Linked DNA regions of Homo sapiens. The protein of the gene in region 1 interacts with the protein of each later gene in a pairwise test. Each region holds a gene or a part of one and is shown on either strand. Other genes may lie near its edges. The genes, in order: ECSIT, BFSP2, GEM and TARS3.

The links.
Region 2: the proteins of ECSIT (region 1) and BFSP2 interact in binary tests that used the Homo sapiens proteins (3 or more experiments, as listed by UniProt).
Region 3: the proteins of ECSIT (region 1) and GEM interact in binary tests that used the Homo sapiens proteins (3 or more experiments, as listed by UniProt).
Region 4: the proteins of ECSIT (region 1) and TARS3 interact in binary tests that used the Homo sapiens proteins (3 or more experiments, as listed by UniProt).

What each region holds. Positions count from the first base shown.
Region 1 is NC_000019.10:11,519,116-11,526,141, reverse strand, and holds part of ECSIT (evolutionarily conserved signaling intermediate in Toll pathway, mitochondrial isoform 1 precursor), read left to right. Parts: intron 1-2,288; exon of another isoform or gene 2,289-2,786; intron 2,787-3,591; exon of another isoform or gene 3,592-4,211; intron 4,212-6,948; 5' UTR 6,949-6,971; coding exon 6,972-7,026.
Region 2 is NC_000003.12:133,395,372-133,403,066, reverse strand, and holds the start of BFSP2 (phakinin), read right to left. Parts: upstream 3,012-7,695; 5' UTR 2,984-3,011; coding exon 2,495-2,983; intron 1-2,494. Other genes in the region: TMEM108 (transmembrane protein 108 isoform 1 precursor), read right to left, coding at 7,081-7,203.
Region 3 is NC_000008.11:94,252,311-94,259,336, reverse strand, and holds part of GEM (GTP-binding protein GEM), read left to right. Parts: intron 1-6,224; coding exon 6,225-6,301; intron 6,302-7,026. UniProt on the Homo sapiens protein: Could be a regulatory protein, possibly participating in receptor-mediated signal transduction at the plasma membrane. Has guanine nucleotide-binding activity but undetectable intrinsic GTPase activity.
Region 4 is NC_000015.10:101,679,453-101,686,478, reverse strand, and holds part of TARS3 (threonine--tRNA ligase 2, cytoplasmic), read left to right. Parts: intron 1-416; coding exon 417-583; intron 584-2,241; coding exon 2,242-2,404; intron 2,405-2,862; exon of another isoform or gene 2,863-2,964; intron 2,965-7,026. UniProt on the Homo sapiens protein: Catalyzes the attachment of threonine to tRNA(Thr) in a two-step reaction: threonine is first activated by ATP to form Thr-AMP and then transferred to the acceptor end of tRNA(Thr).

The DNA.
Region 1 (7,026 bases):
AACGCAAAAATTAGCCAGGCATGGTGGCATGTGCCTGTAATCCCAGCTACTCGGGAGGCTGAGGCAGGATAATTGCTTGAACCCAGGATACGGAGGTTGCAGTGAGCCAAGATTGCACCACTGCACTCCAGCCTGGGCGACAGAGCAAGACTCCGCCTGGGAAAAAAAAAAATGCAGATTCCAGTTCAGTAGGTCTGGGATAGGGCCGAGATTTTGCTTTTTTTTTGAGATGGAGTTTCGCTCTTGTTGCCCAGGCTGGAGTGCAATGGTGTGCTCTTGGCTCACTACAAGCTCTGCCTCCCAGGTTCAAGCAATTCTCCTGCCTCAGCCTCCCAAGTAGCTGGAATTACAAGCATACACCACACCCGGCTAATTTTGTATTTTTTTTTTTTTTTTTTTGTTAGTAGAGACAGGGTTTCTCCATGTTGGTCAGGCTGGTCTCGAACTCCCGACCTCAGGTGATCAGCTGGCCTGGACCTCCCAACGTGCTGGGATTACACACGTGAGTCACCATGCCCGGCCAAATTTTGCTATTCTAATAAACTTCCAAATGTTGCTGACACTGCCAGTCCCTAGAACACACTTTAAGTAGCTGTAGTTTTTTTGTTTTTGTTTTTGTTTTTTTGTTTTGAGTCAGGGTCTTGCTGTGTTGCTCAGGCTGGAGTGTGTGGCATGAACTTGGTTTACTGTAGCTTGGACCTCCCAGGCTCATGTGATCCTCCCACCTCAGCCTCCCAAGGAATGAGAACACAGACAGGTGTATACTACCATGCCTGGTTAATTTTTAAATTTTTTTATAGAGACAGTGTCTGGCTATGTTGTCAGGGCTGGTATTGGACTCCTGGGCTCAACCAGTCCTCCCACCATGGCCTCCCAAAGTGCTAGGATTACAGGCATGAGCCACCGAGCCTGGCCCTGAAAATTTAAATTAAGGTCTTAATCCTAGGTGCATATGAAAGTCATTGCAGTGCTTTTTATGTTTATTTTTATTTATTTATTTTTTTTGAGATGAAGTTGCACTCTGTTGCCCAGGCTGGAGTGCAGTGGTGCAATCTCGGCTCACTGCAACCTCTGTCTCCCAGGTCCAAGTGATTCTCCTGCCTCAGCCTCCCTAGTAGCTGGGATTATAGGCGCCCGCCACCCTGTCCCGCTAATTTTTGTATTTTTAGTAGAGACGGGGTTTCACCATCTTGGCCAAGCTGGTCTTGAACTCCTGACCTTGTGATCCACCCGCCTTGGCTTCCCAAATTGCTGGGATTACAGGCATGAGCCACTGCGCCTGGCCAGAGTGCTTTTTATTTTTTATTTTTTTATTTTTGAGATAGGGTCTCACTCTGTCACCCAAGCCAGAGTGTGGTAGCACAATCATAGCTCATATAACCTTGAACTGCTGGGCTCAAGTGATCGTCCCACCTCAGCCTCCTGAGTAGCTGGGACTACAAATGAGTGCCACCACACCCAGCTGGTATTTTTTTTCTTTCTTTTTTTTTTTTCTTTTTGCTGTTCTTGATCTCCCGGGCTCAAGTGATCCTCCCACTCTGACTTCCCAAAGTGGATAAGAAGCATGAGCCGCTGTGCCCAGCCTTCAGTGGGGTGCTCTATTTATTTATTTATTTTTGAGACGGAGCCTTGCTGTGTCATCCAGACTGGAGTGCAGTGTGGCGCAATCTCGGCTGACTGTAAACTCCACCTCCTGGGTTCAAGCGATTCTCCTGCCTCAGCCTCCCGAGTAACTGGGACTACAGGCGCCTGCCACCACGCCCAGCTAATTTTTATACTTTTAGTAGAGATGGGGTTTCACAATGTTGGCCAGGATAGTCTCGATCTCTTGACCTCGTGATCTGCCCACCTCGGCCTCCCAAAGTGCTGGGATTACAGGCGTGAGCCACCCTGCCAGGCTACTTTTGACACCCCCAAAATCCAGCCAGGTGCAGTGGCTCACCTCTGTAATTCCAGCACTTTGGGAGGCCGAGGTGGGAGGATTGCTTGAGCCCAGGAGTTTGAGATCAGCCTGGAAAATAGAGGGAAACCCAGCCTCTATAAAAATTGTAAAAATTAGTTGAGTGTGGTGGCGCACACCTGTAATCCCAGCTACTCAGGAGGCAGTGGTGGGAGGATTGCTTGAGTTGGGAGGTCAAGTCTGCAGTGAGCCATGATCATACCACTGTACTCCAGCCTGGGCAACAGAGTGAGATCCTGTCTCAAAACAAAAAATCTTAACTACTAATAGCCCACTGTTGTCCAGAGGTCTCAGTGATTACATAACAGTCAATTAACTTATTTTTTTATGTGAGCCAAAGATTTATGTCTTCATTTCTTGCATTTGAAGTACTCTTGGATGACATCCTTGGCCTGAGACTCCTTGCCATAGTCCTTAACTACTACACAACTGCAACCAACCACTTTACAGGGTTTCCCTTCTCTCAATTTTACAGAGCGCTACCCATTCCCCTAGTTTCTTGTTGTCATCAACCTTAATTAAGTTGATTTGGTGCTCAGCACAAAGGGACTCCACCAGCTTGACATACATAGGCTTATCACAGTTGGATCAAGCACACAAAGATGGGCTTGGCGCTTGTCTAAGGCTTTGGCAGCTTCACAGATTCCACGTGCTAGGCCATCGTGGATGAGGGCGGTCTTCAGCACCTCTTGTAAAGCAGTATTAACATCCATTACACCTCCAGCAGCAATGCCTCCCTCGGCCATGGCAGTGGGTTATGGGTGAAGCTGAATCTTGAACATACCCAAGCCTCCGCCTCCGCGCAACTCGGCAGTGGCAGGGAAAGGGTGATTAACATATTTTTTAATGTTATATATATATATAATACTATAATCTTACAATAAGCTGAAGAAAAGAAAATGTTATTAAGAAAATCAGGAAAACACATTGAATTTACTATTCATTAGGTGGAAGTGGATCATCATAAAGGTCTTCATTCTCATCGTCTTCACATTGAGTAAGCTGAGGAGGAGGAGGAAGAGGAGGGGTTGGTCCTGCTGTCTTAGGGGTGGCAGAGGCAGAAGAGGTGGTGGAGGAGGTAGATGGAGAGGCAGGCACATTCAGCTGTAACTTTTTTTTCTTTCACTCTGTCACCCAGGCTGGAGTGCAGTGGTGGGATCTCAGCTCACTGCAAGCTCCGCCTCCCGGGTTCACACCATTCTCCTGCCTCAGCCTCCTGAGTAGCTGGGACTACAGGTGCCTGCCACCACGCCTGGCTATTTTTTTTGTATTTTTAGTAGAGATGGGGTTTCACCGTGTTAACCAGGATGGTCTCGATCTCCTGACCTCGTGATCCACCCGCCTCACCCTCCCAAAGTGCTGGGATTACAGGCGTGAGCCACCGTGCCCGACCTTTTTTCTTTTTACTAGCCCCTCAGTGTTTAAAGTTGTAACTTTTATTTAATTAAATTTAATTAATTAATTTTTTTGAGACAGAGTCTCACTCGGTCACCCAGGCTGGAGTGCAGTGGCGCGATCTCAGCTTACTGTAACATTGCCTCCCAGGTGCAAGCAATTCTCCCACCTCAGCCTCCTGAGTAGCTGGGATTACAGGCATGTACCACCATGACTGGCTAATTTTTTTTTTTTTTACCGGGGCGTTCCTGAGTTTACGTGGGGCACACCTGGGTGAGGGCCCTACCCCTAGAAGAAGGTGTTGGGCCTTTTGGTGGTGAAGCGTGGCTTGTGCTGATGGCGCAGGACCTGGTGGGGCAGCGGGAACTTGATCTTGGAGTCTTGGAACTGCTTGACGGCCAGCCGGTGGGACTTGCTGGCTGCTATCTCCTCCATCTTCATGATCTGGATGGAATGGGTCCAGGTGGGGTACCGGGCGCCCATGTCTCGGTAGCACTGGGTGACAGCGCCCGTGGTGGTCAGGTCCCAATATTCCTGGTACATGTTGTGGGTGCTGCTCTGGGAGTTTGTAGCGCAGCCAGATGCCGAAGTTCTTCACCCGCAGGCGGTACTTCTCGAATGCCTGCCCACAGTTGACAGTCTCCCCGAAGACTTCTTCATCTTCTTTAGCTGAGATACAAAGTACCAGAAGTGGGACTTGGCAACGACATGATCAGGTGCAAAGATTCGCATGTGGTAGAGGGGTGGTGTGTGGCATTTGGGAGTGAGCAGGCAGCAACCCACCACCTTGTACTCTTGTAGTGTGCCCGAGGCCTTCATGGCATCCTCTCCATGCTTGCCGCCACCGGCAAAAGGAGCCTGGCTAATTTTTGTATTTTTAGTAGAGATGGGGTTTTGCCACGTTGGTTGGTTGGTCTTGAACTCTTGACCTCAAGTGATTATCCTGCCTGGCCTCCCAAAGTGCTGGGATTACAGGCGTGAGCCACCACACCTGGTCTTATTCTTATTTTTCAGACAGAGTCTTCCTCTTTCGCCCAGGCTGGAGTGCAGTGGCACGATCTTGGCTCACTGCAGCTTCTGCCTCCTGGGTTCAAGTGATTCTCCTGCCTCCGCCTCCTGAGTAGCTGGGGACTGCAGGAGTGTGCCCCCAGCCTGGCTAATTTTTGTTTTTTTGTTTTTTTAGTAGAGATAGGGTCTCTCCCATGTTGGCCAGGCTGCTCTCGAACTCCTGGCCTCAGGTGATCTGCCTGCTTCGACCTCCCGAAGTGCTGTGATTACAGGCGTTAGCCACCACGTACAGCCATAACTTTTACTGAAAAAAAAAAAAAAAATCCACGTATAAATGGACTTATGCTGTTCAAGCCTTTGTTGATGAAGGGTCAACTGTACGTTGCCGATGGGAATGTGAAATGGTGCAGTCATCCCCAAAAACAGTCTGGCAGTTCCTAAAAATGTTAAACATGTAGTTACCATATGTCTCAGCAGTTTGACTCCTAAGTATATACCCAAGAGAAGTATAAACATGTGTTCACATAAAACTTCTACACGAATGTTCATGGCAGTAGTAGTTATAACAGTCAAAAACATTTGGCAAACAACCCCAAATGTCCATCAATTGATGAATGCATAAATAAAATATGGTTATAGCCATACAAAACCTGGTTATATTCCATTCCAAAAACAGTGGAATTGGCCGGGCATGATTGTAATCCTAGCAATTTGGGAGGCCAAGGTGGGTGGATCACTTGATGTCAGGAGTTCAAGACCAGCCTGGCCAACATGGTGAAACCCTATCTCTACTAAAAATACAAAAATTAGCTGGGTATGGTGGCGGGTGCCTGTAATCCCAGCTACTTGGGAGGCTGAGGCAGGAGAATCACTTGAACCCGGGAGGCAGAGGTTGCAGTGAGCCAAGATCATGCCATTGCAATCCAGCCTGGGCAACAAGAATGAAACTCCATCTCAAAAAAAAAAAAGCCCGGGTGCGGTGGCTCACGACTATAATCCCAGCACTTCGGGAGGCTGAGGCGGACGGATCACAAGGTAAGGAGTTTGAGACCAGCTTGGCAACATGGCGAAACCCCATCTCTACAAAAAAATCTATAAATTAGCTGGATGCAGTGGCACACACCTATAGTCCCAGCTACTCAGGAGGCTGAGGCAGGAGAATCGTGAGCCCGGAAAGCAGAGGTTGCAGTGAGCTGAGATTGTGCCACTGCACTCCAGCCTGGGAAACAAAGCAAGATCCTGTCTAAAAATAAAAATAATAAAAATTAAAAAAAAATCTATGCATGAACCTTGAAAACACGTCAGTGGGCCAGGTGCGGTGGCTCACGCCTGTAATCCCAGCACTTGGGGAGGCTGAGGCTGGCGGATCACTTGAGGTCAGGAGTTCGAGACCAGCCTGGCCAACGTGATAAAACCCCATCTCTACTAAAAATACAAAAATTAGCCGGGCGTGGTGGCATGTACCTGTAATCCCAGCTACTCGGGATGCTGAGGCATGGGAATCGCTTGAATCCGGGAGGCGAAGGTTGCAGTGAGCCGAGATGGCACTATTGCACTTCAGCCTGGGTGACAGAGCGAGACTGCATCTCAGAAAAAAAGAAAAAAGAAAAAAAACATGTCAAGTGAAGGAAACCAATCATAAAGGAGCACTTGTGATTCCAGATTCCATTTGTATGAAATGGCCGGCATAGGGAGATCTATAGAGACAGTGGATGAGTGGTTTCTTGGGGTTGGGAGTGAAGGGAAATTGAGTGCTAATGGGTACAGGGTTTCTTTCTTTTTTTTTTTTCTTCTTTTTTTTTTTTTCTGGAGATGGAGTTTTGCTGTTGTTCCCCAGGCTGAGGTGTAATGGCATCATCTTGGCTCACTGCAACCTCTGCCTCCTGGGTTCAAGCAATTCTCCTACGTCAGCCTTCCCAGTAGCTGGAATTACAGGCGTGCGCCACCATGCTCGGCTAATTTTTTGTATTTTTAGTAGCGATGGGGTTTCTCCATGTTGGTCAGGCTGGTCTCGAACTCCCAACTTCGAGTGATCCGCCCGCCTCAGCCTCCCAGAATGTTGTGATTACAGGCGTGAGCCACCGCGCCTGGCCAGGTACAGGGATTCTTGTTGGAGTGACACAGATTTTGTAAAATTAGATTGTAGTGGCTAGGAGTGCTGGCTCACACCCATGATCCCAGCACTTTTGGAGACAGAGATGGGAGGATCACTTGAAGCCAACAGTTCGAGACCAGCCTGGGCAACACAGCAAGACCCTGGGTCTCTGCAAACTATTTTCAAATTAGCTGGGCATGGTGGCACGCGTCTGTAGTCCCAGCTTCTCGACGCTCTGGGGCTGGAGGATCACTTGGGCCCAGAAGTTGGAGGCTGCATTGAGCTATGATCACGCCCCTGGGGCAGCAGGATTAGGGTGCTGTCCCAAGAACAAAGTCTTTGAGTCATCAGCCTGTTTCTTGGGTAAGGTAAACATTGGGGCTGGTGAGTGAGCCACATAATCTGGAGTGTGCCCTCGACCCTGCGGGGCCCTTGCGTCTGTTAGCATCTGTAAGGTGCCAGGCTAATGCTGAATCTTCTTTTGGGCCAGGTGATTGTCTGACAAGCAGAGGCATGAGCTGGGTCCAGGCCACCCTACTGGCCCGAGGCCTCTGTAGGGCCTGGGGAG
Region 2 (7,695 bases), on another chromosome or scaffold:
GCCAGATTCACTGAAAAAATCAGGAGCATTTCTCAATTATGGAGTTTTCTTTTGTTCTTCTTGATGGAATAGAGTTTAATATGGCTGAAAGGCTGGGCTGTGCAATATAGAAAAAGTAACTCCAGGCTGGGCATGGTGACTCACTCCTGTAATCCTAGCACTCTGGGAGGCAGAGGCGGGTGGATCACCTGAGGTCAGGAGATCAAGACCAGCCTGGCCAACATGGTGAAACCCCATCTCCATTAAAAATGCAAAAAAATTAGCTGGGCGTGGTGGCGTGCACCTGTAATCCCAGCTACTCAGGACGCTGAGGCAGGAGAATTGCTTGAACCCGGGAGGTGGAGGTTACAGTGAGTTGAGATCGCACCACTGCACTCCAGCCTGGGTGACAGAATGAGACTCCATCTCAAAAAAAAAAAAAAAGAAATAATAACTCCATTTTATCAATTGGTCTTACTCTATCTTCAAGTCCATGATTTTTTAAAAAAGAAGAAAAAGAGAACTTTATTCATACCCAGGCCCTCATTTATAGTCACTTAAGAGGAAAGTGAGCCCATGTGGGATCCTGACCCTCAACTACAGAGGTCGCATGTCTTGGTGTGTGGCTGTGGTGCTCTCACAGGATTTTAGAGCTTCCTAGTCTGTACTCTACCTGTAAGCAGGAGCCAGGCTCTTATTTGTCTACAGATTTGCTGGAATATGTAAGCATTGTTATACCCATTTTGTAGATAATGAAACTGAGGCCCAGAGAAGTTAGTAAGTTGCAAAGGCTCTTGTAGCTATCTGGAGCCAGAACAAGTCAGTATCTATTGAGTATAAACTAAGTTTTGTGGCCCTACTTTTTAACCTAGCCATTGGGATACCTGATTTCTCCTGACAAGTCTGTGTGGCATCTGATTGCAAGCGATTGTCCAGCAGATGCTGACATATTGGAGTATCTAGGGATGTTCTGGTGGTTGTTATGGCACAATATTTGGAATAAGGACAGTTGTGAAGAATCCTGGAGGAATGGCTGCCTCTTAGATTTGACAGGCGTTAAGGCCCTGGACTGTTCTAAGATGGCTCTCCCTTGCAGCCCAGATGGATGCAAGCAGAACAGCAGCACCAGGGGGAGAGCCTGAGAGGATGGTGCTGTTCATCATGCACTCTGTGCTGTCAGTGGGCACTGACAGCAGTGCAGGAGAAGCATCCTGGGATGAAGTGGGAGGCAGGAGGGGCAAATGGGGAGTCCCTGTGTGCAACTGCTTAGCTTCCCCCAGCTATACACAAATAAAATTTTGTGACCTCCTCTTGGGAGGCTGCATACTGGACTCCAGGGGGCCAAGGGTCTGAGTTGGCAGTCCCTGGTGGGTTAGAGACTGATTTTGCTCAGAGGGATCCCAAGGCCAGCATCTGGAGAGAAAGAGGAGGAGGAGAGGTGAAGCCAGCTATCCACAGAGAGACCAGCTGAGAGGTGTAATGCTGGCTGGAGTCCCAGCATTAGAACTACAGGCTGCAGGCCAGACATGATGGATGTGCTCCAGACTCCGCAGAAATCACCCTGGAGAGTGGGAAAAGCAGGGCTGACCAAGCAAGGGAGAAAGATGAAACCTCTGCATCCTTCCCTGTCCAATAAGATAGCCATTAGCTACCTGTGGCTGTTTACATTTAAATTAATGAAAATTAGATAAAATAAAAATGCAATTCCTCAGTCTCATTAGCCACATTTCAAGTGCTTGATAGCCATATATGGCTAGTGGCTGCCAGATTGGACAGTGCAGATATAAGATATTAATATTTCCATCACGCAGAAAGCTCTACTTGAATGTAAATTACCTCATTAATATATTTTGTATTGATTACATGTTGAAATAACATTCTGGACATATAGAGTTAAATAAGCTATAATATTAACTTCACCTGCTTCTTTTTACGTGTTTTACTGTGGGTAATAGAAACTTGTCAATTACCAATGTAGTTCATATTTCTATTGAACAGCGTGGTTGTAGGTGGATACAGGAACACACCTCCATTTATTCATTGTTCTTAACACCTCATCCATCCAATGGTATTTGATTGGATAATAGCTGTAAAAATCCCTTCTCAACAGTAAAGGTGACTGAGGCAGCCCCAGGGTAATGGGGCAAATGCAACTTTGGAGGCACAAAAATTCAGGTTCAAATCTCATCTCCATCCCTCTACTAGCTTTGAAGTCTTGGGCAAATTACATGCCTCAGTTTCTCATCTGAAAAATGCAATCAGTGAATGATCCACTGCATAGCATTTCTTTGAAGTTTAAAGAAGACAGTGGGTAGTGCACGTATGGGGGCTAGCGTGGGCTCCTAGTAAACCTCGGTAAAAGGTAGCATTGTTGTTATCATTACCATTTTAAGTGTGAAAGTGTAGGGGATTATGGTCAGTTTCTCTGGCCTCAGCCTACTCACAACCCTACCCGCTGCCTTCAGCAGCCCCTCCCAGCCCTCTGCAAAGCCCTTGGCACAGCCTGGACACTTACCTGCTGGCAGCTGCTGGCCCAGGAAGCCCGTAGGGCACCCCAGTTTCCCGAGCGTGTGGCTTTGCTCTCCAGGTGCATCCGCAGTTGTGTTTCCAGCTCCTGACTGACTTGCTCAAGGGCGTGCACTTTGGCCATATATTCCACCAGGCAGCCCCCTAGGTCCTCAACAGCACCATGGTCCCTCTCCAAACCTGGAGCCGGCACGGTGGCCAGGCCTGAGCTCCGCAGGCCCTGAAGGAAGACACTGCTGATGCCGAGGGCCCGGCGGGTCACACGGGCACCCAAGCCACCTATGCACCCACTGGGTGCTGTTCCTACATAGACCCCGGGTGCTCGGACAAGGCCACTCATGGCATTGGTCCTGGAGGCTGGGGGGCTCTCCAGGGAGGATGATGACCGTGGCCCCCTGAAGGACGCCCTGCGCCTCTGGAGGGGCATGCTGGAGCTGGCACTGGTGGGCAAGTCCACTACCACTCGCCTCTCACTCATCACCCCTTCTGCCTCTGTGGTGCCCAGTGGGTTTACAGAGTCCAGTGGCTTTTGGTTTACAGCCCCAGCATCCCTGTGGCCTGGTCACGGGCCTCTCTGGAATCTCCCCTATCCCTGGGGCTGCTTTGTCTGCTGTCTTCCATGAGTTTCCATCATTCACTGAGCTGAAAGAGAAATGGGCACTGCCCAGGGCTGTGTGCAGAGAGGCACTCATGCATTCTTTGATGCAGGGTCATGTGCCCAACCTCCCAGATTATTCTGCTGGTGGTGGGGGAGGCTGGATCAGTGCAGGCTGTGGAGGTAGACCATTTGGGTTTGTGCATTTTACTACCTAAGTGGGCAAGGCAGGCATCAAGCAACCCCATTTTACAGATGAGTAAACTGAGGCTCAAGGACCTCAGATGACAAGTGTACTGATCACTTGCCCCAGACCTCAGATTACAAGCTAGGACTCAATCTAGCTATTTCAGGGCTTTCTACATCCCTATGTGTGCTGGCACATGTGAATGTGAACACATGTCCACACAGGCAATAGAGGATGAAAAATGGCAGGAGGCAGCTCCAGGGACCCAAGAGAAAAGACTTGCCTATGGTTTCCTCTCTCAGTCCTGGCAGCAGCTTCAGGTCCTTCCCTCACCTCTCTCCTTTCCTCCTCATCTCTGTCCTCTAATGCTCTGCTGTTCATCAGCTGCTTGCTGTTGGCCAGGATGCTTCCTCCCTCTGGACCTCACTGTCTGAACATTGGCTTGGGCCTTTAACTCTCTGATGCACCAGATAAGGACCTTGGGCAAATTCAGATCCCACACATGTTCCGGCCATTCCCTACACCTCTGCTTCTCCATCTGTTGGAAAACTGAGAAATAAAAACAACAACGAGGGTGTTTTCTGGTAAGCCTCTCCAAGGGTGCCCCAAGTTAGGATATGATGACACCCCTGGGTTTTAATTATTGACCTTGGCATCCACTAAGCCACCAAGGGTCACACCTCAATCACTTCTCTAGGATCAGAAAGGTTCCCCCAGTTACAGGATGACAACATGGACCTAAAAACCTCTGTACATAAGTTTTACCCTGGAGAAACCAGGTCACCAAACCCCAGAGCTGGATACTTTTCCAGATGCTGTAATGTAGGAATGTACCTCAGGTGAGAGAAGGAGAAGGGAGTCAATCTCTAGTGAGTAGCAGATCCAGCCTGGTGTGTGCATGAATCCTATGGTTTATTTCGTGGAATTCTCAACTCAACCTCAGGAGGAAGGAGGTCCAGGGTTGACAGGTACTGCCATATGGGCTGTGTACCTCACAGCTCTAAAATGACATGTCCTACAGTTGGCCACTGTCCTCTTATGTGAGGAGGACCCCGAGAGCTGCAATGACTTGCCCAAGGTTCTATGTCCAGAAAGTAGCAGAGCTGGGGGCAGACAACCTCTTCCAAACTCTGGGCCACTGACTTACTTAGGAGCCTCCCTGTTGCCCACCACCCAGAGAGCAGAGTACCTACCTGAGGTCACGCAGGTAGAGGTAAAAAACCTGGTCGCCTACTAGAGGACCCTGTGTGCACTTCCTTCCTACTGACCAGGACACTCCAACCCTTCCTTTCTTTATTGTCTTCCACTTTGTCTCTCTGAGATGGCCTGGGAGGTATTTTATAAATATCAGTGTTGGCTATTTGATGAACAGATGAAAGAACCAATTGGATTAAGTAAAGGCCAGTAGTGTCCTTGTTTATTCAGATGTAGCATTAATGCTGTGAACACCACCCCTGATGCACCCAGAAGGGGCATGCGAGCCTGTGTTACAGTAACAGCCTCCTATACGGATGACACTGACTTGGTTCTGAGGATCTGCATTATTGTGAATTCCAAGATGTATTGTCCAAGGCTGAATGAAAAGTTCAGGCTACTGATTAAGTTGTGCACAAATGTGTCATGTTTAGGCATTGTTATTCTCTACAGAATGGTAACACTCAATGGCCAGGTTAACTTCAGACTTCTCCGGACCAAAGATATTTACTATATAAATCCACTCAGCCCTGGAGACAGGGAGAAAGAGGGGGGGATGTACTTTGACACCACTGTCTCCAAAGACCTGATGAAAGATGAGTCTGTTTTGGAGAAACTGCAAACATGTTCAAAAAGATTTATTTTATCAAATGATAAACTGCTAATCCTATTAGCTCATCACATACATAAAACTCAACTTACTGTTAAATCAGATTAAAAAATACAGATGGATATAAAGTGGTGTTGGTACTGCTTAAGGAAGACTTAGAGCTTATCTTGAAAAGAATGCAAAATGTATTAGCAACAGAATCCTCTGGCTAATAAAATAAGTTTATTTATATATACATGGTAGCTGAAATCTGTGGATAAGGAAAAATAAGTCATACATCCACATATGTATATATAACATATGTATCTTTGATTACATATATTATATATAAATTTTACTTTACAAACAGATTTTTCTCTGTATACTTACACACATTGGTATATTAAATGTAACAGTTAACAGAAATATTATGGTAAGGTTAAAAAGGTAAGACAACAACACGCTAGAAAATTAAACTTAGAGAAACATTTAGTTGCTTCTTTGTGGGTTGAAGAGTCTTTGAAGAGAGACAACAACCGAACTCATGTGAAGGAGGTTCATACAACATTGAGAACACACTTTTGAAGGCCATCTTTTTTTTTTTTTTAAGGAAAATGCAGAAAGAAAAAAGTCATGATAGACTACAGCAACAACACAAACATATGACCCAATATTCAAGTTCAATTCCCAATCTGACTATAAGAGCATCTATATTCAAAATATACTATCAAACTATTTTTCTTTTAGAGAAAGGAAGTGTCAAAGCAGTAATCATCTCTCTCAGCCACAATCAGGAAAAAATAGAGAAGCGGCCACCTCTGGAAGCCCCTTGGGCGTCTCTGAGGGTCTGACGTTGTTGGCCGTGCTGGACACAGCACGGGGAGGCAGCCAGCCGGCCGGGAACAAGGGGAGCAGTGGAAGCTGAGAGCTGGATGGCAAGTCCACCGGCTGGTGCTGCGAGCAGGTTTGCAGTGCCAAGTAGGAGTATAATGATGTCTTCTCCCAAATGATTTGTTTGGGCAATCTTTTTTTTCTTTTTTAAAGATTGCAGGAGGAAGGTTTCAAAAATTATCGCTCTACTACCTCAAAGCTTCTTAGATAAACATGTTCCTCAGGGGCACGATACCATGGCCTTTTGAGAAAACAAAGCTGAACCCCAATAAACATTTGATCCTTGAAGAAGGAAGGGCAAGCATTTTAAAGCTCCAGGGCCGGGATCTGCATCTAAACCCTCTCCAAGAGAAAGGCACGGGTGTTTAATGCAGATGTGGGTGTTGGAGGGGATACAGGAATGGGCATAAAGGGAGCATTTTCCCACCAGGGAAAGGCAGTCCTGTTGTTAGCAGTGGAAGTAATGTTAGGGGAATATGGCCTTGGGATGCCTTGATGTCCTCCATGGATTCCTGAGGGCTCCATGCTCCTGCCTGCCATCCACAACTTGGATGGAATTAAACATGACATCCAATGGTGCCGTCATAAGGCTCCAGGGTACTCATCCTCAGAGGTGATGAGATGTTCCCTTTTCCTTCTCTGTGCATGAGTCTGCCGTCTTCCCCTGAGGCGGTCCAGTTCCCTTTACAGGTGTGCGTATGAGAAGGGAGGAAATGGGGTCACACCAAATCAAGAGGAACCAGAGCTTTAAGAATCACTCAAAGAATCGTGCGCTTGCACTGTAACATTCAGCTTCTACAGGAGGTCAGTCTCTTACCTCACCTGACCAGGGTTCCTGGGATCCCCAGGTGCTCAAGAATAGTTATTAAGAGAAGCAATCAATGCAACTGCTTTGCTTAGAAATACCTTTATTTTATAAAGCCACAGATCATTCTGTAAAGTTTTTTTTTTTTTTAAACCACACTTGTAAAAAAGATGTTGACAATTCATAGGAAAAAAAGCTGAAAATGTTTCTCATTAAGTCAGGGTTACACAAAGGTTATATTTATAATATATGTATTTGTATATTTATAATTTAGAGACGAAAAATACGGAATGGCAAAGTGATGCCTGCTGTAGTTAGATCTCAGATACTTGATCGTTTCCCACAAACAGTGTTTCTTGACAGAAGGGGTTAACAAGGACCATCCCAGTGTCTCTATAGTCGCCATTGGCTGGGGAGCGGGGCTCTGAGAGCTGGTCCTGGGAAGAGAGAGGGAGGAGATGGAGTGAGCTGGAGAAGGCTTAAGAGGTGGCCATTCTTAAAGAAATGTACACATGGGAACATTTATTTCAGCACTGATGGCTTGGTGCACATTTTCATCATCCCTACTGCTAATGCTGAGGTGCACAGCCCTCTATGCCATTCTTTTAATTAATTTGTGTGTGTGTGTGTATGTGTATATTTTAATTTTTGTGCTGTTCTTTCATATTTTTATAGCAGCTTTCAAAAAATGTTCCCTGCTTCTGGAATCACCCCAATCCCAGGTTGCCAGAGATGGTACTGCTTTCCTTGTCAAAGTCTGAGGGGACTTGCCATGCATGACACACATACAGTGCATGGCTCACTGCACTAGTGGCAAAACTCAGTCCACTTGCACCCAGACTACTTCCTGCCTCTTTCTCACAGACTTCTGGGAAACTTCTCTGCTTTTCCTTCCTGAATACACCTAGACTCACTCGCCTGTTTCCTGC
Region 3 (7,026 bases), on another chromosome or scaffold:
TCACATGGTCTGTGTTCTGTCGCGACTCACAACTGAATCACAGAGTAGGGAGGTGTCTTAGCGATGACTCAGTTCTCCCCTGCATTGATGCATATTAATGTTATTCCTCACTACCCACAGCCCATCTCATCTGGAGGTTTTATTCTTCTTGATTGTCTCAGTGTCAAGGAGTTCACTGCCTCATGAGGCAGCTCAGGAACTGGGCTATAAATAATGACTCATTGTTGTAACATTGATTTCTCTCCTCACTCCTGGAATCTCAGAAGAGTAAAGGGAGAAATAGGGCCAGTGTTGTACAATTGATTCCCTCTTTCTTTGTAAAGGCTGCCAGGTGACTTGCTAGGAAAGAGAAACGGGAGGAAGGGGCTAGCATTTAGAGTGAATGTTTGCAACGGGAGAGGCACTTTGTTAGGTGCCTTATATTTGCTGCTGTTTATTTTGGTCTTCACAAAGTTCTTGTACTCATGAGTAAACTAAGTCTCAGGGAGATCAAAAGCCTTATCCAGAATCACCCAATAAGGAAGGTGGATTTAGAATTTGGGATTTTATCATCTTAGTTCAGTTCATTTTACCATTTCTGGGGAACTTGCTATGTGCCAGGCACTGTGTTAAATACTTCCCACACATATTTTTGATAATACTTGAATCAATCTGGCATTAATATACCTATTTGACAGGTGAAGAAATGGAGGCTTACAAAGTCAAGTGACTTTCCCAGGGTGAAAAAACTAGTACATGGTATGACCAGGATTCAAATCTAGTTGTGATTGAACCCAAATCCTGTGTCTTTTCATAGCCCCCTGCAGCCCCAGGATTTAGCTTCCAAATACTAAGTATGACAGCACATTGGGCATCAGCCACACACCTGGCTCTGGCCTAAGCTCTGGGATACAAGGCGATGGATGAGGTATACCATGCCCCCTAGTAATGAGCTAAGTGTTAGTTGCTATGTTGCAGAGCAGGGTCACATTAACTAATATTTTAAGCAGTAACGATACAGTGCTTTGGGCGTTGACATAAGGAAGAGATGGACTGGGAGTTGTTTTTTGTTTTTAAGAGGGAAGAATTGAAAAAAGTTAGTGGATAGTAGACTTTCAAAAATGTTTGTCCATTAGAATGGAGTTGTATGTATCCAGAGGGTAATATTCCCATAGGCATAAAATGTTAAGAAGACTGACTCATACCTGGAATTTGGAAAGGTAGCCTTCCCAGATATTTTGGGAACTTCTTTGTTGAGAGAGAGAGAGAGAGATGCCCAATATGACAGCACATTGGGCATCAGGCATATGGCTGATCCTGGGGCCGCAGGGGACCATGAAAAGACACAGGATTTGGGTTCAATCATGAGAGAAAGGGAATCCTTTCCCTAGCTTCTTACACAGAGAATCTGTAGGACCTGCTGGAATCACTAGTTGGTTTTGTTTCCCAAGAGGAAGGTTTTCTAAGGCACACCCCTACATTTTTTTTTTTTTAAATCAGCATTCACTGTAAGAAAAAAAATCGACATAATATTCTCATAATGATTTCTCCTAATAAAGATGGATATTGTTACAGTTACACTACAGTAATCTTATGACTCTCTGTATACACTGAATGCCATTCATTCATTCATTCATTCCTAAGAAGTTACTGAATGTATAGCACAGAGCTTGGTGAGGCACTCTGGGGACATGCAAAGAGTCATGGGGCTTCTTCTGCGGAGATGCTCACAGTATGCAATGGAGCATAATGTATACACCAAGTAGAAATTGAGATAGGATGTGGTAAATGTCTTGAAAGTGGTGTAAGGAGAGTGCTGTGGGAATTCCGAGGCGAAAAGATTACCTCTGACTGTGGATTTAAGAGCTTCATGGTTGGCCCGGCATGGTGGCTCATGCCTGTAATCCCAACACTTTGGGAGGCCGAGGCAGGTGGATCACCTGAGGTCAGGAGTCCAAGACCAGCCTGGCCAACATGGTAAAACCCCATCTCTACTAAAAATACAAAAAATTAGCCGGGCGTGGTGGCATGTGCCTGTAATCCCAGCTACTGAGGAGGCTGAGGCAGGCGAGTCATTTGAATCTGGGAGGTGGAGATTGCAGTGAGTCGAGATCTCACCATTGCACTCCAGCCTGGGCAACAAAAGTGAAACTCCATCTCAAAAATGAAATAAAATAAAATAAAAATAAAAATAAAATAAAATAAATAAAATAAATAAAAGCTTCATGGAAGAGATGGTCTCTGAACTGGACCCTAGGGACAACTAGGATTTGGAAGCCCTGAGCTAGGTGGGAAGGCACACCACACATATATAGCAAAGTACGGAAGTCTCATTGGGCTTGGGGTTTGATGATGGGTTTAGACGCAGCTCTGACACTGACTTGGCTGGGTGCTCTTGGACAAGCCACTTAGCCTCCTCAAGCTGCCTCATTAGTGTAATTGGGGTAATACCTCCTTCATAGGGTGTTACGAGGATTAAAGGATATAACATGTTGAGCATGGAGCATGGTGCCTGGCACATAGTAAGTACGAAATGAGCATTAGTTAGAGCTGATTCTGAATCTACCATTTCCTTTTGATGTGCTTATCTTTCAAAAGTGGTGGTTTCCTTGCTTGTGGCCCCTGTCCACTTTGGTCACTGTTGGCTGGGGCCCGTGGAGCTGTCCAGAGGGGACCGGGGCCAGTAGAGTAGAGGACAGTATTTGTAGAGCAGGCATTTCTTCTGAGGTTCCTTGGGATCCCCTGAGCTATGAAAGCTGGAAGCAGTTGAAAGTTTTCAGGGAGAGGGATGCTGGAGTCTCAGAACTTTAGAGGTGCTGCAGGAGTCAGTTCTGGCAGTGAGAGAACACTTGGGCGGGTTTCACACACACACAGCACTTGAGCCAGTCTTGGGCAGAAGGGGCCTCACTTCCAAGCACAAGGAGTGTTAACGAAAAAATTATTAACATGGTAAGGAAGACTTTATTCAGGGCCATTGCAGTAGGCATCCCAATAGTGGGGAGAGATGGGGCTCAATTCCAAGTACAAGAAGAACAAGTGGGCACTTAGCCAAGGAGCAGGTGGGAGGGGGTCAGAGGATAGAAAATTACTAAGAGGAGACGTCAAGGTTAGGGGGATTCTTGCTGAAGTCAGGCCAAGGAGCAGGTGGGAGGGGGTCAGAGGATGGAAAATTACTAAGAGGAGACGTCAAGGTTAGGGGGATTCTTGCTGAAGTCAGGCCAAGGACTTAGACTATCAGAGGTGGTGGGTGAGGAATTTGATCAGATATTGAAGGTGGGGGATTCTCACTAAACTGACTTAGCAGGATTCTTGCTAAAGCTGAATTCTGCCAGGATGGAAACGGAAGCCCAGGGAGAGGCCGGGTAGAGAAGAGGATTCAGAGGAGCCTGACTAAAGTTTGGTCAGGGAGAGAGTCTGTCAGGGGGATCAAATGAGGAAAGACAAACTGGTCTAGAGAAAGTGGCTACTGACCACCATCACCCCTTATAGAACGTCTGTCTGTCCCCATCAGCATGAGTTCTTTTGCTACATAGAGTGTGCACAGACACCCCAGCTTTCTTCCAGTGCACTGGAGAAGTAGGGGTGTCTCCAGACCCAGATTACGGAAAAGCCTCACAGAGACTAATCAGTATCCAAACCTTTCTCCACACCTTTACTGGAAGCAGATTTCAAAGAGCTCTCCTAGAGTCTGGTATTCTTTTCCTTCCCTTCTTCTCACCTGATTAGCACTTGAAAAGGATAAAAGATGAGCTGAGCAACTTAGATGAAGAGAAACCTGGAGCTCTGGTTACTCCCAGGCTTGCACCTGGTTAGGGGAGAGCCTTCAGTCGGGATGCCATGTGTGCTGGAAGGGTCCTGGTGCACACAGCCAGAGGCCGTATCTAAACTCATGTACTGGGGTGGGGGGTAAAGTGGGGAGCACACGTGCTGAGCAGGGAGGAGATGGATTGTTTTAGCCTCCCAGGCCTCCAACACCGTAATTTTCAGGCAAAGGTAAGATCAGACAGAATGATCCTGTCAGGAAGCTTCTAGAACGGGAAAGCATGTTTTTACTTTCATGGCTGTGATCCTTAGTCCACTTTTTCTCTAGACTTGTTCTGATATCTCTTAAGCCAGGAGAAAGTTGGGTTTTCCTTTTCCGTCAGCGATTGGAACACAGTATGTTTCTATTTGAATGACTGGGCACTCAAGCGAGTCCCCTGTACCTGAGTGGTGGGCTGAGAAAGTTCCTCCATCATTGAAGGAGTTGTCTGAGTGCAGGGAGGGGTTTTAGAGAAGAGCTAAGAACCCTGTGGTGGGAAGCAGCAGTCAGGCCATCCCCGTTCTGTGCTGCTCAGGCTCTGACAGTCTCCCTTGCGTTGTCTAATTTACAGGTTGAGGTTGTGAGGTTCTACCCCTGGTAATCCAAATAGTCCCACTGTGATCTCATTCCTTCTGCATATTGTGAGCAGGCACACGATGGGCGAGACAGAGTTTTAATTCCCCAAGGGCAAACACTTACTGATTAGAAGAATGACGCTGTGGGAGGTGGGGAAACTCACAGAAAGACAGGGCCATGCCTGGTTAACTCTCTTCTTATTTGTCCAAGTTTTCCTTCTCTAAGGAAGGGAAACCTCTCCTGATTCCAATTCTTAGATGATGAAGCATTAAACCAGGAGCAGTGTTTTTCGTAAACTGCTCGCTATTGTAAAACAAGAAGTGCCCTGGTTCCAACGTAGCTCTCTTAAGCTAGGATTTATCTGTAGTGAGGAAGTGCTGAGTATGGCAAGAACCAGCTTCCTTCACCTGAAGAAGTGATAATGGCTAACACTGACTGAGTTTCTACTTTGTGCCCAGGCTTAATACAGGTAATTGTCACATAGCCCTAAGGTGTGAGTACTATTATCAATCCCATTGCACAGATGAAGAAAACTGAGGCTCAGAGAGCCTAAGTTGCGTAGACCCCCAGAGTTCATAAGGGATGGCACCTGGATTTGAATTCAGGTTTGCTTGTTTTCACAGCCACAATGCTATATTTATCATTCGTTCACTGTACAAACTTTATTGTGCACCAGCAATGTACCAATGTGCTGGGGGACACAGTAAACAGCATAGATGCAAATGTCTGCCCTAACATTACGAGAGGGGCAGGAGGGACAGAAAATAATAGAATAAGTAAGTTAAATGTGTTGTATGTTAGGTGGCAATAAGTGAGATGGAGAAACATAAAGCAGAGAAGGAATATTGTGGGATAGAAGTGTTGCAATTTTAAATGGATGGCCAGGAAGCACCTCCCCCAGAGGGAGGTAAGGAAACAGGCCTTGTGGGTATTTGAGGGAAAAGATTCTAGACAAAAAGAACAGAAGAAAAATGATAAATCATTATGAAAGTCATAATTTTCAAAAGATGAAATTCAAAACAGGAAACCTCATTGTGAAAATAGAGTGGGGATGGGCTCAATGGTATTGGGATGAGGGAAATCCCACTTGCAAAAATCCCACTGTACCCCTTTTCTACGCCTGCCCCCCATGGATTTTCCAGGCTGGAACTGCTTTGGCCCATTGTACTGTACTGTGTTCACCCTTCACCTACACAAGATCTGGGCTCAAGTGCAGGGAGGAAAGTTTCCATTACCAAGTAGAGCTGGAGGCTGCATTTCTATTATACTCAAGATGGAAAAACAAGCCCACTTATTCCTAGGGAACAGCATTTTTTTTAAAAAAAGGAAGAAAACTACAGCCAAAACAGGGAGAGTCTCAAGATTCATTCTTGCACTTGTCCGAAGAGGAGCAATGTCTCTGAGCCCAAAGCTCCTGAAATTGCTAGTGAGTATTCAGTAACTACCCACTGAAAGGTACAATGGACTTATGAAAATGTGGCTTACAGTTTCACTGGGTGGTTAATGTTTCCTCATAGCATTAACCATTGAATCTGAGTCAAAAGCTCTTGAGTAAGTTTATCCTCACAAATGATTTTGCCATACAAAAGGTCCAGGAATGATGCAAACAAATGCCTTTTACTCCATGTGGTTTAGTGACACATGTTCGAGAGAGACGTTCTGCTGGATAAGGACTGGAGGAATTATATGTAGAATGTTGTTGAAGGTGACAAAAAATAGTAATTTGCCTTTGAAAATATCTGTATACTTACATAATTAATTGCATATTTAGTAAGTTTATGTTCTAGCACAATTTTCTACCTGACCCTCTTATGGAGAAGTGTTGCATATTCGCCTGACTCCAATATCTTTGTTCTTTCTTCTCTAGAAGATACATATGAACGAACCCTGATGGTTGATGGGGAAAGTGCAACGATTATACTCCTGGATATGTGGGAAAATAAGGTATGCAGAGCCTGTAGCTCTCTAAATTCCTTTAGGGCTTTCCTTTCAACAAGTTGTTTGGTGCAAGGGTGACCTTGTCCTATATAGTAGGTGTTCCAGATGAGGTGGGCTCATTTTCTTGATTAAAAGCATACTGCTGAAGAATGAGACTGTTCTAAGGAACAGGTCGTTCACAGATGAGTTCTGAATAACAAGCAAGTTGTAGTGACTTGCCTTTAGTTCTATTAAAAAACACACCCAAAAAGTTTATTTGTTTTAGGGAAAATACAAACAGGCATTGACTGTTATTTTAAATAACATACATCCATCTCATATGAAGTTGAGATTCTCAATACCAGTCTTCAACATTGGCTTTTTAAAGATTTTAAAAAGCTTCAGAACCTATGTGCTAGACTTCTGTTAATTGAAAACCCTCCTAGTCCCACAAAAGTGTTCTTAATCTCATCACTTGGAAAAGGCAAAAGGGAGTTTTTGGGAAGTCAGAAAAGGCTCATTTTTGGTAGATTAAATAGAAATTGGAAATGCTGTTTGGCAGAGAAGTTGTGTAATTTATCAAATCAAGCTGTAGAAGATACTGAAAAGTGAAAACTTTTTGGCATAAATACTGGACAGGCTAGCAATCTTTACAGCCACCAGACATCTTATAGGCATAGAAGACCAATGCTTTTAGGGAGTTGGAAGCGATTTTCTTCCTTTTTCCTATTTTTCCTATCAGCAAGTGTACT
Region 4 (7,026 bases), on another chromosome or scaffold:
TGTTTAAAACTAAATAAATCAAAATTATAACATGCAACATGGCATTCAGGCTTATTAAATTATAAATTTTTTCTGCCTCTTAATAGGAAAAAACCTGTTTAGAAGGACTTTGGAGTAGTTACAGTGAGTTTCTATATATATTGTATTTCAATTACTACTTTTCAAAGAACTAAAACATTATATACTATATACTGTTATATGCTATAAAATAAATATACTCAATAGAAATTATACTAAGCATATGTAAATCTTTCTTCCAAGATCCAGAAACCACCACACCTAAAACTGAGGGTACATTAATCATGAATTAATATAGGACATGAGCCCAATTTGAAAATATTTGCTCATAGTGTTACTTTGCATGGAATTGTGATCTGCCCTAGCAGATTTTAATGTTGAATGCATGTATCTTGAAGGAGGAATATCACAAACGGGACTTCACGGAGGTGCTCTCTCCCAATATGTACAACAGTAAACTCTGGGAAGCCTCAGGCCACTGGCAGCATTACAGCGAGAACATGTTTACCTTTGAGATTGAAAAGGACACTTTTGCCCTCAAACCCATGAATTGTCCAGGGCACTGGTGAGTATTAAAAGCGAAGCAGACCTTTTCATGAGAGCACATAGCACGCTTCGTCACAATTATCTTTTAATGCTTTGTGGAATGAAAGAGTCCCTTTAATCTGAAGAGTGGTGATTACTAATTTTTACTAAGTTGTTTCATTCCGGAGAATGGATTTACTTTTGAAAATATATTTGATCTTTGGCAGGTATGGGATGTTAGCTGGTAACCATTGCATTTTTTTGTGCTGATTAAAGGATAATGTTATGTGTCAATTTTATAAGTTTTATAATATTTGTCTTTCTTATAGTAATGCACTTCACATGTTCATATTTGCAGAATATTTAGTTCTTTCATACTGTTTGGGTGGATTATAACAAGATCAATGAGGTCATAATCAATGGGTTTCTGGATTTCACTGATTCCAAGATACCATTTTTCTTCCACATTTCAACATTTCTGAAGTTGAAATGCATCTTATAGTTGGTGGCATCTTAGCATTATATCATAATTTAATTAATAGGTTATTTTCTTTCTTTGTAGCACATAAAATGAAGATACATTTTACAATCAATGCTGTCTTTGATTCTATGAAAGACTAATTATCATAAAGTTGGTATGCAAATTCAACCTTGTAAGACAAACATATTGTACAACTGAAACTGAATAGGCATAATTGTCCACAAAAAACAATCCCAACAATTGTAGTTTTTGTATTATCAACATACATAGTTTCAAGTAAATTTACCTAGAAGATAATTATTAAAACCGGTAACTGAACACTGAAGAAAGCTCTTTGCCCTTTTAAGTGAAGATGAGAAGAAATTTAACTTTATGATGATGTCATGTAAAAAATATATATAACTTTAATTTTAGGAACACCGGTATGTAAACATTCTGTATCCTCTCTTTCTAAACAGAAGGTAGAAGCTATGCTAGTGTTTTGCATTGTAAAACACTTGTGTTAACAATTTCTTAACTCATCTTCTCAAAGGCATCCTTTAAAATTATAGCCTCGTACTTTATAATGAAAGTAGAGAATTTAAGTTTGTCTTTTTACACCTCAGAATAAGAAAGCAAGACCACGGTGGCTTAGAGGCAATGGGATATGGAAGCTAGGAGTGCTTTCTGCAGGAGAGAAGTCTTTCATTCAACAGAGAACATAGTTGAGTGCTTTTTGTGCTTGGAGCTAGAAGTGCAGAGGTGATTAAGACACAAACCATTCCCTCATGGAACTCATGAGCAGAGTGGGCAGGGCCATGCATGTAGACAATCTGTTATAAAAAGACCAGTGCCATAATGATGGCATGTTTGAGGTGTTCCAGGAACGTGAGGAGAAACTGCCTAGCCCTGTCTGGGAAATGTCTAGGAGGGCTTCATTTAAGAAGTAGCCTTTGAAATGAATCATAAACAGTAAATGGTGATTCACTGTGTGGATAAGGGGAGGGAACAGCATTTCTGGGAAGAGATAATAGACAAGCATCTTTCTCAGAGTGCTGCAGTGATGTAAATGCAAGGTTCACTAATTTGTGGAAGAATTTTTTTTTTAACCTGGTGATCTAAGAACTAGAATAAGGAGTTTATGAATCTTGAGGCTTAATTGTAATTTCTTTATATTTAGATAATTATTTAATATTTCTGTGCTGTGTAAAAGCTGTGTGTTACCACATCTTTTCTAGTCTAATGTTTGCCCATCGTCCACGATCTTGGAGGGAAATGCCTATTAGATTTGCTGATTTTGGAGTTCTGCATAGAAATGAACTGTCGGGGACTCTCAGCGGCTTGACCAGAGTGAGGCGCTTCCAGCAGGACGATGCTCACATTTTTTGCACAGTGGAGCAGGTAAACAATAACACAGAGTGAAGCAGTGTGGTCACAAATTGAGTGTGATGCCCCGCACACATCTTGTATTCTTTCAGAGTTACTGAAACATAGACGTTTGGTCTAGTCTCTGAGATTCATTCAGCTCTAACCTGCTGTGATTCTCTAAATTAGGTCAATAGATTAATCATCTCTTGACATGAAATATATTCCTTCAGTGATTTTATTAACCTAAATTCCATTAAGTGGAGTATTTTAAGGGATTTGGTGGAATTCTGGATGTTTTGTTTTTCAGTATCGCCTAGAACTTAAAATTTACTTTTTCAAGTTTTTGTGTTAATTCAAGTTAAAATTGCCATGCAAAGTTTCACTGTCAAACAATTTGACCTAATTGATGTTTATATAACAACAGCAGAATATACATTCTTTGGTTTCATGTTGGATGGGTAATGTGCCAGTGTTGTATCCAATGTGCTTCATGTGGGGTGGGTAATATGCCAATGTTGTACCGAGGTGTGAGGGAGGTACATCTTACACATGTGTGTACACCCAGTCATCACGCTTATGAACTACAAAAAGCTCAGAGTATTTGTTCTTTGAAATTGCACGTAGAATATTTACTAAAATAGACCATATTCTGGACCATAAAACAAGTCTCAGTGAGTTGAAAGGGATGCAATTAAAATAAAATGTTTAATTAACCCTAATGTTTAACCCTAATCCTAACTGACCACAATAGAATTAAAAATAGATAACACAAAATCCAAAGGAAAATTAGACAATTTTATATAACAAATGAAATAAAAACACATCAAAATTTGTAGGATGCGATTTAAGTGGTAGAGGGATGTTTATAGCACTGAATACCTGCATTAGAAAAGAAAAATCAATGACTTAGCTTTTACTTAAGATAGAAAAAGAAGAACAAATTACACCCAATGTAATGGAAGCAAAAGAAAGAAAATAAGAAAGAGCAGAGCAGAAATCACTGAAATAGAAAATAAAGAGTAAAAATAAAACAAAAGCTGGTTCTCTGAGAAGATCAATAAAATTGATAAACCTTTAGTCAGACTGATGAGGGAAAAAAGACAAATAAAAATGTCAGGAATGAGACAGATGTCATCACTACAGATTCTGTAGCTGTTAAAAAGATAAGGCAGTTTTATGAATAACTTTATGCTCATACATTTGACAGCTTAGATGAAATGGATAAATCTTTGAAAGACAAAACTATTAAACTTTACTCAAGAAGAAGTAGATCATCTGAATAGCCCTGTGTCTACTACAGAAATTGAATTGATAGTTAAAAACCTTCCTACACAGAAAACTCCAGGCCAAGATGGTTTTACTGGTGAATTCTACCAAACATTAAAGAAGGAATAATACCAATCTAGAGATACTCTTCCAGAAAATTGAAGAGGAGGAAATCTTCACCACCTCATGAAGCTAATGAAGCTAATATTGCTGTGATAGAAAAATAAGACAAAGAAATTAAAAGAAAACTACTGAACATCTCTCATGAACATAAAATCAAAAAATTTAAACAACATTTTACTAAGTCAAATCTAGTAATTTTTTAAAAAGGACATCTTAATCAAATGGACTGAATCCCAGGAATGAAAAGGTAGTTTAACATTAGAAAATGAATCATTGTAATTCCCCACATTCACAAACTAAAAAAAAGAAAACAAACAAAAAGACAAAAAGCATATTATCTTCTCAGTAGATGCAGGGAAAAGTATTTGGCAAAATTCTACATCCATATCTCATAAAAACTCTCAAAACTAGGAATGGAAGGGAACTTTCTTAACCTGATAAAAGGCCTCTATGAAAAACCTACAGCTAACCTCATACTTAATAGTGAGAGTCTGAATGCTTTACTCTTAAAATCAGATATTAGGTAAGGATTATCTCATTACTTCTCTGATCATTGTACTGCAGGTTCTTTCTGATGCAGTAAGTTAAGAAAGAGAAATAAAAAACACCTAGATTGGAAAGAATTAAAACTCTTGTAAATGACATGATCATCTATGTAGAGATCAGATGGAATCTACAGAAAGCTATTAGAAGTAAGGTGAATTTAGAAAAATTGTAGTATGGAATATCAACATACAAAAATGAATTGTATATGCATTTCATAATAATAAACCCTTGGAAATTGCAAATAAGAAACAATTTGTAATAGCATCTCAAAACATATGATAGTACTTTGGGATAAGACTGACAAATATGTTGCTATGGACTGAATTGTGACTCCCAAAATTTATATGTTGAAGTCCTAACCCCCAATGTGATGGTGTTTGGAAATGGGGCTTTTGGGAAGTAATTAGGTGTAGATGAGATTATGAAGATGGAACCCTCATGATACGATTAGTGCCCTTTTAAGGAGATGCCAGAGGCTTTCTGATTCTCTCTGCCGTGTGAGGACACAGTGAGAAGTCAGCCGTTGGCAAACTAGGAAGAAAGCCCTCACCAGGGAACTGAATCAGCTGGCACATTGATCTTGGATTTCCCAGCCTGCAGAACTGTGAAGAATAAATGATTCTTATTTAAGCCACACAGCCTATGGATTTTTGTTCTGGCAGCCCAAGCTGAGTAATACATACATACACAACCTATACAGTGAAAACTTTAAAACATTGCTGAGATAAATTTAAAGAAGGCCTAAATAAATGAAATATACCTTGTTCGTGGTTTGGAAGACTAAATATTATTAAAATATCAGTTATCCCCAAGTTGATCTATAAAGTCAGTACAATCCCAGTCAATACCCAAGCAGACCTTTTTTCCCTGTAAGAGTTGACATGCTGATTCTAAAATTCGTATAGAAAGCACAAGAACCTAGAATAGCCAAAAGAACTTTGAAAGATAAAAACAAATTTGGAAGAGTCACTATGCTTGGTTTCAAGAATTATGAGAAACTACAGTAATCATGCTGGTCTAGATAGATAAATCAGCAAAACAGAGTCTAGAAATAGACACAAATATATGGACAACTGATTTTTAATTAAGATTCGAAGGCAATAAAATGGAGGAAAGGTAATATGTTCAACAAATGATGCTGGAATGATTGTGTATCCATATGCAAAACATGAGGTATGAGGATTCATACCTCATACCATATGAAAAAATTAAGATGAATCACAGGCCTAAATGTCAAACATAAAAATACAAAACTTCTAGAATAAAAATTGGGGAAAATCTTTGTAATTAGGTGATAGGTGATGATTTCTCAGATATGACACCAAAGGGCAATCCATAAAAGAAAAAAGTTGATAAATTGGATTCCTCAAAATTTAAAACTTCTGCTCTTCAAAAAATACTGATCATAGACAGGAAAGACAGGTTACAGACTGGGAGAAAATATTTGTGAGGCATATATCAAATAAAGGACTTGAATCCAGAATACTTAACAAATATTCAAACCTCAATAAGAAAACAGACAACCCAGTTAAACAATGAGCAAAAAAGACCTGCTTTGGGGAAGATGAAGCAGGTGCTTTCCCTTTCCTTCCCTCTAAGAACAAGTAAAAACCTTGGATATTACATATAAAACAAACACGAGACTCTGAAAGGTGTTGAGAAAAAGGGCACACTGGCTATGGACATCAGGACCTAAGAAACAACATGGTAGTGAGTTCCTTAGGTGTTTTTGTTTTGTTTTGTTTTGCCACATATATTCCAGACTTGGCAACCAACAGATGCCAACAGGCATCGATAAAACAGGCCAACAGAAGTCTGCTTGCTGTAGCCAAAGGACTAGGAAAGGGGCAGCCTAGAAAGATAGAAAAGTTTTAGACAATATCTACTCTATTTCAACCAGACACCACAGAAAAAACTGTGGCCCTTTATATGCCAGCTAAGGCTGATTGAGAAGCTTATATTTTAACTCTCAGCAGGCTCTAAATAAGTACCTCAATACCTGTTGGAATGGGTAAGAGAAGGCTTATTAGGAAGCTGGGAATTTTACTCCTGCATTAACAAGATCCCATCCCCCTCCCCCAACCCAGCAGTGTCAGTGAAGACTATGTGGGGAGCCTGGACTTTTGCCCTCCCCTGGAAGTAATGAGGTGCCTCTTCCAGTCCTGCTTGAGTAGTGTCAGAAGACGTCTAGTGGAAAGATAAGACTTTCTCACTGCCAATTGGTCATGAGGCCATGCTTTCTGTGTGCAGTAAAGGCCATGGAGGGGGGCTAGAACACCTGTGCAACCCAGAAGTAACGAGGAGCTCCTCTCCCCTTACTTCCTTTCTAAAAGGAGCTTGGACTGCTTTTCCCACTTGCCAGTAACTGTCCAGTACTGTCCTCCCTCTGCTGGAAGAGTGTCAGTGGAAGTCAGCTAAAACAACATTTAAGATCCAGAGGCTTACTATAAAACCGAAAATGTCCAGGTTTAAGAAATTGAAAATCACTCATCATGCTAAGAACAAGAAAAATCTCAACTTGAATTTAAAAAGACAATCTATGAACGGTAACACTGAAATAACAAAGATGTTACAATTATCTGCCAGAGATTTTAAAGCAACCACCATAAAAATGCAATTACTAACTAATGAGCAATTACTAACACACTTGAAACAAACAAAAATTACAAAGTCAGCGAAGAAACAGAAAATCTCAGGAAAGAAATAGAAGATATAAAGAA